2 separate regions of the Homo sapiens genome follow, and region 2 is linked to region 1. Evidence: fine-mapped expression QTL. Tissue or cell type: whole blood. Region 1 holds a variant in brackets; the other region holds the start of a gene. All regions are shown on one strand. Distances are from middle to middle.

What was found. PIP is the estimated chance that this variant, and not a neighbour inherited with it, causes the effect.
Region 2: it holds the start of MRC1, and the variant in region 1 is the best candidate, but not a certain one, in a credible set for the expression of MRC1 in whole blood (INTERVAL, PIP 0.56).

What each region holds. Positions count from the first base shown.
Region 1 is chr10:17,838,867-17,845,763 of GRCh38, forward strand. MRC1 (mannose receptor C-type 1) reads left to right here. Exons shown (of 30, transcript NM_002438.4): 5 at 1,827-1,940; 6 at 6,423-6,569. It overlaps MIR511 (microRNA 511), which reads left to right and starts at 6,241; the gene lies at 6,241-6,327. The variant A/G (reference allele first, on the strand shown) is at 3,731.
Region 2 is chr10:17,805,440-17,812,336 of GRCh38, forward strand. It overlaps MRC1 (mannose receptor C-type 1), which reads left to right and starts at 3,909. Exons shown (of 30, transcript NM_002438.4): 1 at 3,909-4,087. The coding sequence starts at 4,027.

The DNA of each region.
Region 1 (6,897 bases):
AGCATGTGGAATTGTTGCTTTGTGCAGCAATACTAAAATATTTTGGTCTGCTCTTTTATAAAATTACAAAAGCATATTAGAGAAAATTATTTGTGGACAACACCCATCTGCTTTAAGAGATATATTTTAACCCAAGATTTGAATTTTGCTTCTAAGTCACACCTTTGCCAACCTTAATATGAAGCTATTGATAATAATAATAATAATGGTAATAATAACAGTAGTAACTTATATTTATGGGGCATATACCATATGTCAGGCCTTGTTTTAAAAAGTATTAACTAATTCAGTTCTTCAAGACAAGTTTATAAGTACTTAGAGCTGGTAAAAGATGTCAAAAGGTAATTCTCTTAAAGAGCTATTATCATTTCTCATGATGCCAAACATAGTAATTTAGTTACGCAGTCTCAATATCTACTTCAGTTCTTCTTTAATCAGCGAATTATTTATAATTTTTAAAACTTAAATACACTTATTTTCGTAATTAAGTTTTTTAAAATCCCTGAGTAAATTGGTTTTGGGAATAGCTAGTATTAAAATGCTACTTTTAGGAGCATGTCCTGTAGAATACGTCTGTGCAAGTAGAAAGATAATTATATTTAAGTTAGTACAACTTTAAAGAATTTGTGAAAATTCTTTTAAAGAATTTTTTTGAAGGTTGTTGAGTACAGTGGTGTGTACCCTGTAGTCCCAGCTATTTAGGAGACTGAGGTAGGAGGAACGCTTGGACCCAGGAGTTGGAGAGCAACCTGAGCACCATAGTGAGACTCCATCTCTAAAAAATAAAAATAAATTTAAAAAATGTTTTTAAAAGCCAAAGGATAGTTTTTATTTTAATTAATTGCTTTTGATCAATTAAAATAACTCAGAACAGAGAATTCTCATTGATGGTTTCAAAAAAGATAGAGGTGGCAGGGTATGGTGGCTCACGCCTGTAATCCCAGCATATTGGGAGTCTGAGGTGGGCGGATCACCTGAGGTCAGGAGTTTGAGACCAGCCTGGCCAACATAGTGAAATGTCATCCCTCCTAAAAATACAAAAAAAAAAAATTAGCCAGGCGTGGTGGCGGTCACCTGTAATCCCAGCTACTCGAGAGGCTGAGGCAGGAGAATCGCTTGAACCCGAGAGGAGGAGGTTGCAGTGAGTGGAGATTGAGCCACTGAACTCCAGCCTGGGCGACAGTGCAAGACTCCAACTCAAAAAAAAAAAAAAAAAAGAGCGGTAATAATAGGTTAGAGTGTTTACCGCTGAAGAGCTGAGGTCCGTGTTGTTTCTGGTTTTATGACTTCCACATCAGTCCTAGAACAGAATTGGAAACATTGTATTTTTGATTTCTTCACTGCTTAAGCAAAGCATCCTTGGTGTTAGCATAAGCACTTAGTGATTAGTATTTAATCATCATGTTAACGAAGAAGAGAAATTGACTTTAAAAAATGATAAAATAAAATTCTTAGAATAAGGTTTGAAATATGCAGTGGAGGTAACACCTATTCATATTCACACAAGAAGACTTTACACTATCCTTGAGAAAGTAGATAATAGTCAAGATGATGGGGTTTGAAGCCTCATTAGATCTGGGTTGGAACTTTAAAAATCTTACCAGATTACCTATGCTGCCTCTGCCTCCGTTTCCCCACCTATCAGTGAAGGTAATAATTTTACTTGCCTTAGGTTGTCAGGAGAATCAAAGGAGACATGGTAGGCATGATTATTGTTACTTCCCTCAGTGACATTTTGATTCAAGCACTTAGTTCTGAATTTAATTTCAACTGTTTTCTGAATGCCAAGTTCTTGTTTGTTTGTTTTGCTTTCTTTAAAAATATAGGATTAACCAGTTCCTTGACCTCAGGACTCTGGATTGGACTTAACAGTCTGAGCTTCAACAGCGGTTGGCAGTGGAGTGACCGCAGTCCTTTCCGATATTTGAACTGGTTACCAGGTAGGGTTAAGCCTGTTTGTGTCGAATTAATCCAAATTTAAGTCATCTAGACGCCCCGAAGACGTTTATTATCTCACCTGTTGATCTCAAAGAGAAGAATTGGGAGACTTCATCAAATACAGTTCATTTCACCTTGTTTTGAAATCTATGCTAGATTTCCATTTACTGAATTGTAAGGTTATACCAGCTTCCTGGGATAGGGATTTGTCTGCCAGGATTCTCACACAAAACAATAAAGGTCTCTGTTTAAAGTTTCAGTTCTCAGAGTATCCCTGATGTGTTGGGTACTATATTCAAAAGCAGATGTTGTGGCTACTCTTAAACATGATTTACTAAATATGCTACTTGCATTGTTACTATATACTTGCTGTTGCATTGACTTTGTCAACATCCTTGAGAGGATTAGCCAACATCTCTTTGTAAAGTTTGACAAGTGGATTGAAATTATTTTGGGTTGGAGAGATTTTTTATGACTGTACCTTGAGTCATGAGGTATTTGCAATATTGCTGTCCTTGTGACAGTGATTTTAACATCTACATTAACACCCACTTTTCCTGTTTTTGATTTAATAACATCGGCTTAAAAATACTATCTCAGTTACAGCTTATGATATTCCATACTAGCATAAAAATTCATTAGAGGTTTCTCAACAGTAGTTTATAGAAAAACAGAGTTGGGGATGATAAAACCTACAACAGCTTTCTAATTTTTTTAGAGGATAGAAAATGCTGTGAACTAATTATTTCTACATTGTCATAACATGAAAGTAACAGAATATAAAATAAGTTTACATATTGAGCAACTATTTAGAGAAAACAAAAAAATGATATAAAGTTTTTCTTATTCACCAGTACCAACTGGCGTTAGTAGCCACTTGAGGCCTTCTATTGGGTATAAATTCAATCCCCACCCCTCAATCCCACCCCAGTGCCATTTTTTTTTTTTTTTTTTAGGAAAGAGTGCAATTAATGATTAGTGACGTCTGCCGTGGGTGTGGGAAAGGAGAGAAGTATCATATTGGTCACATCTTATCAAATCTCCTATGGGCCATACCATTATAATACGGTGTTCTTCAGACAGTCAGACTTCTCTTTTAAAGCCATTGAGTGGTTTTCGCATTTGGCTTAGAAAACTAAACTCTCCATTTTTGTTTGTTTGTTTGTTTTTGTTTTTGAGACAGGGTCTCACTCTGTTGCCCAGGCTGGAGTGCAGTGGCGCAGTCTCAGCTCACTGCAACCTCAGCCTTCCTGGCTCAAGTCATTCTTGTGCCTCAGCCTCCTAAGAGGCTGGGATTACAAGCATGCACCACCATGCCTGGCTAATTTTTTAATTTTTTGTAGTGATGGGATTTCCCCACATTGGCCAGGCCAGTCTCGAACTTCTGAACTCAAGTGATGTGGCCTGCCTCAACCTCCCAGAGTGCTGGGATTACAGGCGTGAGCCACTGCGCCTGGCGAAAATCTCCATTTTCTATATTGGTTTATTGTATTAAAAGAAGAAAAACTTCAATAAAATAATATTTCAAATAGATGCTAAAACACGAGAAAATTTTTAGAGAATATATTTTGGCTTAAATAAATTAGATTTTACTCTGAAATTCCAGTTTCAAAGCGTTACTTCAACATATGATGGTTACAGTGCTGTCACTCAAGTCTTGAGCCAATAATCAGTTCTATTTTTTTCTGGAACATGGAAGGTAAAAATTTCTGGAATATGGGAAGACTTACTGCAAGGGAATACATATAAAATATCCTTTTTTGTGCGTGAAAATTTAGGTGTCTGTCTACCT[A/G]TTCAGCCAGATGCAATTAGAGAATACTAGTTGGCCTCAATCAGATTATTAGACAATAAAACTTATTAGGGGACTAGAATTTATTCTTCTTTGTGTTGCTAAATTTTTATACATATTAGGCAGTCATTTAATTTATTCACTTGGGGGTGATGATTATATTTAACCGCTTGCATCCTACGAGTTCAGGGAGAAAACTTCCGGGTTAACTTTGGGTGGAGTAAAGAATGAAAGTGGAATATGATTAAGAAAGGGAAGCAAATGCTTTCTAAAATTAAACTTCAATTCCTAAGAAGTAGGTGCAAGATTAAATCACCTTGCGAAATAGTATGAGAGTTTCTTCCAACTAAAATTAGAGATCTTGTGGAAATTAAAAATCGGTTTCATATTTGTTCAGTCAAGCATTCAATTGAATAATTACCAAGTAATGAAAATATTAAAATATATTCACTTTTGAAGTGAGGATGTTTTGCATAAATGATGTACAAGTGTGAATTCAAATATATAATAACTATGGTAAACATCAAAACCACTAGTTGATGTCTCAAAGTTGAGAGAGGTATTGTATTGATAAATAAATGTGTAATATGATTTACTAATTAGCACATCAATTAATAACTTAGAGCTAGAAATGTATTTGTTTGAAAGTTTCTTTTTAGTGCTGATACCTTATCTGTTAGTTCAGTTATCCTGTTATTTTAGTTACAGTATCAGCAAATGTTTAAGATACCTTTATGCTTATTACTAACTTTATGATAACTTTATGCTTATTACTAACTTTAAGATAACTTTGGCCAGGTGCAGTGGCTCACGCCTGTAATACCAGCACTTTGGGAGGCTGAGGCGGGTGGATCCCGAGGTCAGGAGTTCAAGACCAGCCTGGTCAAGATGGTGAAACCCCGTCTATACTAAAAATACAAAAATTAGCTGGGCATGGTGTGGGCACTTGTAGTCCCAGCTACTCAGGAGGCTGAGGCAGAGAATTGCTTGAACCCAGGAGGTGGAGGTTGCAGTGAGCTGAGATCACGCCACTGGACTCTAGCCTGAGTGACAGAGCAAAACTCCATCTCAAAAAGAAAAAAAAAAGATAACTTAATGCTTATTACTAACCATTATTTTCTTTGTGTGGTAGTTAAATAAACTTTAAAAAAATCATTTAATTACCACACAAAGAATACCACCAAAACTTTAAAAAGGTTATTTAGGTTATTACCTGCTCCAGACTTTGTGGAGCAGGTAATATGATTTCCGTCTTGCAGGAAAGGAAGTGACATTCAGGCACAGGTTACATACACATTGGAGGTCACAAAGCATAGGTATTAACAGAATGTGGCTCATTCACCCTGTCTTCAGGTGGAAGGTGAAGCTAGTTTGGGGAGTACTGGTTTTTAAATCATATATTAGAGTAGCAAAACGCATGTGAAATGTATCAATGCCTACATTCATCCCTTTAGCAACGTTGACTTTATCTGGTTCTTTAATCAGTTTCCACTAAGAAATGGATAAGGCATAGCTGCTGAAAGTCTTCTTCAGTAGGCTGAGTTGAAGATATTGAGACAGTTTTAGTTCTGGGAGCACAGCATGCTGCCCATCTAGCTCTCCCATTAGCTTTTTCTCCTCCATTTATTTTTATTTTTATTTTTGAGACAGAGTCTCACTCTGTCACCCCGGCTGGAGTGCAGTGGTGTGATCTCCACTCACTGCAACCTCTGCCTCCCAGGTTCAAGCAATTCTCCTGCCTCAGCCTCCCAAGTAGCTGGGATTACAGGTGCCCGCCAGCTCCCCGGCCGATTTTTTTGTATTTTTAGTAGAAATGGGGTTTCATTATGTTGGCCAGGCTGATCTCGAATTCCTGACCTCAGTTGATCCATCCGCCTCAGCCTCCCAAAGTGCTGGGATTACAGGCGTGAGCCACCGTGCCCTGCCCTAATAATGTTTAGTGTGGCAGGTTTGGAACATCATGTATTCTTTCTTTTTAATAAATTCTACTTGTAGATTCAGAGATACATGTACACGGTTGTTACATACCTAGGTAAATTGCATGTTGCTGAGGTTTGGGATATAAATGATCCATCCCATCAACCAGGCAGTGAGCATAGAACCCAGTAGCTAGTTTTCCAAACTTTGTTACCCTCCATTCCTCCCCCATCTCATAGTCCCCAGTTTCTGTTGTTGCCATCTTTGTGTCCATGAGTACTCGGTATTTAGCTCCCACTTAGAAGTGAGAACATGGCTATTTGGCTTTCTGTTCTGCATTAATTCGCTTAGGATAATGGCCTCTAGTTGCATCCATGTTGCTGCAAAGGACATGATGATTTCATTTTTTTTTATGGCGGCATAATCATGCATTCTTTTCATTAGGTACCTCTCTTTGATAATGTAATCCGTTGTGACAACTGTTCAAGTTTTAAGGTGTAGCTTTATTAGCTGATAATGGGGGAAAGGGTTGTTTCAAAGAAGTATATTTGCTTTATCAACATTCTAAGTATTGGAATGATCCAACGATAAGAAAACAATAGACACCCATCGTGTCTTTTGCTCTGCAGTCAGTAAATATTTTTTTGTGAATGTGTAGCAAAAGACAGAATGGTGGTCCATTGAATCCCCAGGATGAAGACATGAGGAGACGTGGGAGGGATGCTATCTGCTGGGAATAGCTATAATAGTCCACTTTAACTTTTCCTTTTCCTCGAAGGAAGTCCATCAGCTGAACCTGGAAAAAGCTGTGTGTCACTAAATCCTGGAAAAAATGCTAAATGGGAAAATCTGGAATGTGTTCAGAAACTGGGCTATATTTGCAAAAAGGGCAACACCACTTTAAATTCTTTTGTTATTCCCTCAGGTAAGTGATCTATGGGATCTGAAGTGCCTCAACTATTAGAATTGAAAGATAAGTAACATTACAGCTTAGGTGTAACTGTTGGAATGCCGCCAGAGGTTTTGTGGATAGTTGATGGGGTAAACTTAATGATATTACTGCAATATTTCTGTGTGCTGGTTGCTAGTATTTCCTGAGTGTGCGGCGGTGTCTGGGCATTGTGGAGATCCTCTGACCTAAATAAAAATGTTACCTTCCCAATCAGTCCTCTGAGGTAGGTGTCATGATTCACATGCTATAGTTGAGGAAAAAGATATTCAGAGGATACAGAAACCTTGCAGACATGGCAAAA
Region 2 (6,897 bases), 33 kb before region 1:
ATCTGTGTACAGAGATAATTTCACTTCTTCCTTTTTAATTTGGATGCTTTTATTTATTTTTTTCTTTCCTACATGCTCTTATTAGAACTTCCAGTACTAAGTTGAAGAGAAGTGATGAAAGCAAATAAAAGCACCAATCAGAACACACAGTCCTGACATTTGGAGGGCTAAATCCTTGTTGCCCGGCCTGGCCTCACCTAGCTGCACTGGGCGTGTGGGCTGCTTCCCCCTTCACAGCTGCCTGACACAGCCATAACCACAGGGAGAAGCTGAAATTCGCTGAAATGTACCAGCCTCTTTATCAAGCTCTCCCTTGGATGCTCCAAGTTTCTGACTAGACTAGTTCCCAAATACAGATGGTCCTTGACTTAGGATTGTTAGACATAATGATTTACCCACTTTATGATGATGTGAAATAGAAATGGTGCATTCAGTAGAAAATGTATTTCGAATACCCATACACCCATTCTGCTTCTCACTTTTAGTACCATATCCAATAAATTACGAGATACTCAACACTGTATTATAAAATAGGTTTTGTTAGATGATTTTGAAATAGAAGAGTTCCCTTATGACCCTCGCAGGGGGTGCGACAGGAATGAGGCTTGCTCCTTTGGTGCCCTGCTGCTCAAACCCCTAGGGGGGAGCATGCAGCATGCAGATGGGCAGGTGCAGAGGCTGTGGGGAGTGCTTTTGGGCTCCACCCCACGGCAGCATCTAGGACTCCTGAAGCCCAAGTGGGCGTGTGTTACAGTGTGCTCTTTCAGCTATACCATCTGCAGACAGCTTGTGTTAGTCAGCTCAATAGACCCTCTGCCTTATCACAAGGACAGGGAGGCAGTGTGACAGCCTGAGTTCTTGCCCAGTGTACTGGAAGAATCAGATCACATGTGGGCTGGAGGGTTGAGTGCAAGGTTTTATTGAGTGGTGTAGGTGGCTCTCAGCGAGATGGATGGGGAACTGGAAGTGGGGAGTGGAGTGGGAAGGTGGTCTTCCCCTGGAGCCAGGCTGCCTAACCCCCCAGACTATTCTCCAACCACTGCTGGCCAAACTCCCCTTGGTGTCCAGATGTCCTTCTTCTCTCTTTCTCTGCTGCGCCACCCCACTGCTCTCCACTGCTCTATTCCTTCACTCTTCTCAATGTTTAGCGCTTGTGTCTATGCCCATTAAGGTCTCAGGTTTTTATGGGCACAGGATGCGGGGTGTGGTGAATCATAGTGGTCTTGGAAATGTAACATTTGCGCATGAAAACAGGAGTGCCTGTTCCCACTTAGGTCCGTGGGCACAGGTCCGAGGGTGGAGCCCTCGCCAGGGATCCTGCCCTTCTCTACCTAGCACTTCTCTGCCTCCTGTCCCTATCAATTTTGCCCAGTTGGAAGCTAATGTAAGTGTTCTCAACACGTTTAAGGTAGGCTACGCTGAGCCGTGATGTTTGGTAGGTCAGGTGTATTAAGTGCATTTTTGACTTAGCATATTTCAACTCACATTGGGTTTAACAGGGCCTAATTTGATCATGAGTAGAGGAGCACCTGCAGTTACTTCAGTCAGTTCCTGTCCATTTGATGGCTGCTTAGATGGAGGGATGAATTCCTGGAGTTTCCCACACCACCATCTTCTGTGACATCCCTTCCCCAAGATTTGGATTTATTTTTTGCCCCAGTGGCCTCTTGTAGCCTGATAAATCTTTGTTTCAACGAGGTCAAGGTCATGGGGTAAATTCTTTGTGGGGTGGTTGGCTGCATTTTGTTTAAACTTCACAGATTTTAGTACTGATCCTAATTTTTAATTTTACTAATGTGATATACACACTTATGTAATTAAAAAACAAACCCTGGGCCAGGTATGGTGGCACACGTCTGTAATCCCAGCACTTTCAGAGGCCAAGGCGGGCGGATCACTTGAGGTCAGGGGTTTGAGACCAGCCTGGCCAACATGGTGAAACCCCGTCTATACTAAAAATGCAAAAAATAGCTGGGCATCATGGCACGCGCCTGTAATCCCAGCCACTTGGGAGGCTGAGGTAGGAGAATCGCTTGAACCCGGGAGGTGGAGGTTGCAGTGAGCCCAGATTGCACCACTGCACTCCAGCCTGGGCGACAGAGCAAGACTCTGTCTCAAAGAAACAAACCAACCCTGAATGTGATTATATACATAATTCAATTAAATGTATTTGCTTCTGAAATATATATAAATGTAAATTAGGCAGTCACTTTTGTATATGATTTATTTATATTTGAAAGCCACAAATGACCCATTTAAACTATTATTTTCATAAGCCAGTGAAACAATGTCTGAGAAACATTTTTGTTTTGTCTGTTCTGTTCTATAACCATCATTTTTTTTTTCAGTCATGTACAGCCTTAGTGACAAAGAAACTTTGGTCCTCTGTCCTACATTTTCACTATCTTTTTCCCTCCGGTCAGGATAATCTCAAATTTACATGTTAAAAACAATCAGTAAGAGAACTACATCACATTTCTAATAGGATGGAAACTTTTCAACTTTATCACAAAGACAACGAATGTGGAGGCTTTCCGTTTGAAGATAAAACTATTCATTTAAAAAATTTTAAAAATTACAATGTTTCCAGTAGCTTCTTTTTGAATTACTAACATATTCCACACTCTAGTAACGGTTTGGCCAGCTAATCGTTAGTTTCTGCTTTAAAATGTTCTAAATTCCTGTTCTACTTTTGAAAAATGACAACATAAATGTTTGGAGGGTTATTTTCTGCTTAATGAAAGATCTAGAAACATATTTTATTCTAAGAAAGAATTCCACTTGCCTTTAAATAAAGATATACCTTTTGACCAAACAATCAGATTTTCTTTTTCTTTTTTTTCTTTTCTTTTTTTTTTTTGAGATGGAGTTTCGCGTCTGTCGCCCAGGCTGGAGTGTAGTGGTGCGATCCTGACTCACTGTAACTTCCACTTCCCAGGTTCAAACGATTCTGTTGCCTCAGCCTCCTGAGTAGCTGGGCTTACAGGTGTGCATGATCACACCCGGCTAACTTTTGTATTTTTAGTAGAGACGGGTTTTTGCCATGTTGACCAGGCTGGTTTCAAACTCCTGACCTCGGGTGATCTGACTGCCTCGGCCTCCCAAACTGCTGGGATTGCAGGCGTGAGCCATTGTGCCTGGCCAGATTTTCTTTTTCTAGCAAGGGGACCCACTTAAACTTGAAGAGGACCGGGATGGTTGAGGCTGGGCAGCAAGGCTTTACTGCAAATCCTTTACCACTGTTTTTTCTGGCTTTCTAGAGAACGTTCTAGCAAAAGGTTTCTAGAACTTTCTCCTTCCTGGCCTGACTGACATTCCCTCTTAGGTGTAGCCTCCTTTTCACTTTTCTTCTGCCTGGAGGAAATGAAGCTCCACGGAACTTTCTGTTGAAACTTTCCAAGAAAAAAAAGAAAGGCTCTAAGCACTGAATGTGGAAACTGAAGGGGATGAGCTTCAACTCTGAAGTGTTTCCAGCGTAAAACTGTCCTTTCCAGGGCCCGTGTGGCTGTCACTTCAGAGTGGAGGTTGTCTGCTGAGGGACCCCTGACTCAGCTGCTTCCCAGGGGAAGCTCCGTCTTCCGGCACAGGTAATGGCCTGCAGCTTGATCTCCACCCAGCCCCATCTGAGCAGGCCGGGAGCTCCCAGGCTGTTTCACTTCTCTCCTTCCTGACTCCTCACCATCACCATCGCCCTCTCTCCTCCCCACCCCGCCACTCCTCTCCCACACGTGTCCCTTTCTCCCCTTCCTCTGCGTCTGCTCTTCTCAGAAGTTAGCTTACGAAGCAAAGTTGTTACTTTGAATTCCTGTTTTTCCAGCCACCCTCATGTGACAGGATGTCTCCTCAGTAGAGGCTTTCCCTAAATTCAGGAGCCCTTTAAAAGGGAGGGCTTCCTCTGTAGTTCTTTTCAGCTGGGCAGCTCTGGGAACTTGGATTAGGTGGAGAGGCAGTTGGGGGGCCTCGTTGTTTTGCGTCTTAGTTCCGCCCTCCTGTCCATCAGGAGAAGGAAAGGATAAACCCTGGGCCATGAGGCTACCCCTGCTCCTGGTTTTTGCCTCTGTCATTCCGGGTGCTGTTCTCCTACTGGGTAAGTCTGCTCTGAGGCAGGGGATCTCTGACCTGGGGGGCCGGAACCACACCTTCCTCTTCTGGGTTACTGTGAATGGGTTCCTTTCAACATCTTTGTGAGGAGGAAACGGGGTTCCCCTGCACCACGCAGTCCACGGCTAAGCCTGCTGCCTTCACCTGGCGGCCAGGCATGGGAGGCCTGGAGTTGGAGGAGGGAGGAGGATGCGTCTCAGGTCTCGGTTGCTGCCCTGCCGGGAACCCTACAGACCTTCAGTGTCCTCCTGACTTCTCTCATCGCTCGTTGTTCCTTCCCTGTTTTCTTCGTGCAGAAATTTCCTGCTCTGTGGTTTACTCTTTCTGGTTTTCAATTCACACTATTTCTGTCTCACCGCCAACAAACACCTTCTGAGTGTCTCTGGCTGGAAGGAGGGCAGCCCTGATGTCTCCCCGCGTCTTAGGTCCGAGGGTATCATCGCAGATCATCCCCCCAAAAGAGATTCTAAGCAATTTCCATACTCATTTTTTTTTCTGCCAGAATCATTCAGACACTTGATTGTTAGAAAGTTCATCCTTATCTGTATTCTAGACTATTCAAACTGCCGCATAAGCAGATCGATTCCTGTTTTTCTTCTTTTTCTGGAGATTAGAGATTACTCATTAGGAACAGCTCCAGAGTTGTTCAAATTCTCAAATACCTTTTCCAGTCTGTCTTTTCTATTTCTCTATACTCAGTTGCTTAAACTTCAGGATGGGAGTGCCTCGGGGGATTTTCATTCCTGGTTCTATTTGGAGATGATTTAGAAGAGATTTCAAATTTGATTTTTTGATTTCTGATCCCCCTTTAATTCTATGAAATCAACAAACACTTGCAGAGAATGGTTTGTGCCTACGATCTACTCTATGCACTGATGTGAAGGCGGGTGGGAAGTTTCCTAGGAAGAGAGTGTTTTAGTACCGCAAATGTTAAATCATAAGTATTGAGTGGTAGTGATTACAAAAACACAAGTGAAGGCGGTATGGTTTACATCCTGTCTCTCTCACTCACTAGCTTTGCGACCTTGGGCAGGCTACTTTATTTCTTTGTGCTTTAGTTTCCATGTCTATAAAATGGAAAGAATAATATTACCTGCCCCCATCAGTTCTTGTGATGATTCAATGAGTAACAATATGTGAAATGTTTAGAACAGAGTATGACCCATAGTAAGTGCCTTATAAGTGTTAGCTATTAAAATCAGTGGCAGAAAAGAAGTACATAAAAGGCCAAATAAAAAGGATAGATGAAATTAATTTTATTTTTATTTTTGAGACAGATTCTCATTTTGTTGCCCAGGCTGCAGTGCAGTGGCATGATCTTGGCTCACTGCAACCTCTACTTCCTGGGTTCGAGTGATTCTCCTGCCTCGGCCTCCCAAGTAGCTGGGATTACAGGCATGCACCACCATGCCCAGCTGATTTTTGTAGTTTTAGTAGAGACAACGTTTCACCATGTTGGCCAGGCTGGCCTCGAACTCCTGACCTCAAGTGATCTGCCCTCCTCAGCCTCCCAAAGTGCTGGGATTATAGGCATGAGCCACAGCGCCCAGCCCTGATATTATTAATGTATTTTATTTCACCCAGTAACTCGGAAATATTATCCCTCAACATTTAATCGATTTGGAATATTTTCCCATTCATTTCTTAAAACTAACTCTTCAAAATCTGGTGAGTATTGCATACTTATAGCATGTCTCAATTCACAGTAGTGTCATTTTAAGTGTACAATGGTTACATGAGGTGACTGGCTATCATACTGGGCAGCACAGACACAGTGCCTAATTTTCTTTAAACTGACTCAATAATGCTTTGAGCAATAGTGTTTCTCGGTTTGCTCAGGAGTGTTTCCCTCTTCCTGACAGCAGGATGCCCTCCTCTGACTAATGTCTTCCTCTTCATAGGCACAAATATTGGGGAGAGAAGGGGGATGCTGAAGATCTGTTTACTTGGAGAATAAACAAACAAAAAATTCAAGGGACCCCCCTTCCAGATTTTTTTTTCCTACGTGAAAGCCTGTAATTTGTGTTGTTTTGTTTTTTGAGACTGGTTTCACTCTGTCACCCAGGCTGGAGTGCAGTGGTGTGATCATGGCTCACTGCAGCCTTGACATCTGGGCTCATGCAATCCTCCCACCTTGGCCCACTCCCAACTCCCCAGTAGCTGGGACTTTGGGCTTGAGCCACTATGCCAGGCTAATTTTTAATTTTTTTTATTTTTTTTTATTTTTGTAGAGATGGGGTCTCACTATCTTGCTCAGGCCGATCTCAAACTTCTGGGCTCTGGTGATCCTCCCACTTTGGCCTCCCATAGTGCAGGATGATAGATGTGAGCCACTGCACCCAGCCTGTAACTTTTATTTTATCTTTTCTTGGCCCGAGAAGCATGTGATTGGAGGAATTTGTGTAAAGGCAGGGCACCTGCTTAGTTAGCAGCAGGTTAAACTATGCGAAGCCCCAACACCTCTCCCCTGGCTTCCTGCCCACTAGGAAAACCCATGGGAAGGTCTCCCTACTTGCCATCAGTTTATTTCTTTTCAATCCACACCCCTTCCTTCCACCTTCAGGAGAGCATCCCACAGCATTAGCACCATAAGTCTCTGTGGGCTGCTGCCAACGGATGGGCTGGTTCTCCCTGGAGGGGTCCAGGAGTCTAGAGGTTAACAGGGCTAGACGCTCACCTTTCCTACTGTTGTTCTTGCCGCACTATCTTTTTAGCACTCAGCAGCAAGGTTTCCAGCTCAGTTGGGTTATAATCATGGTAGATGCACCATGAGAGCCGGTGGGACACAGAGGTTAG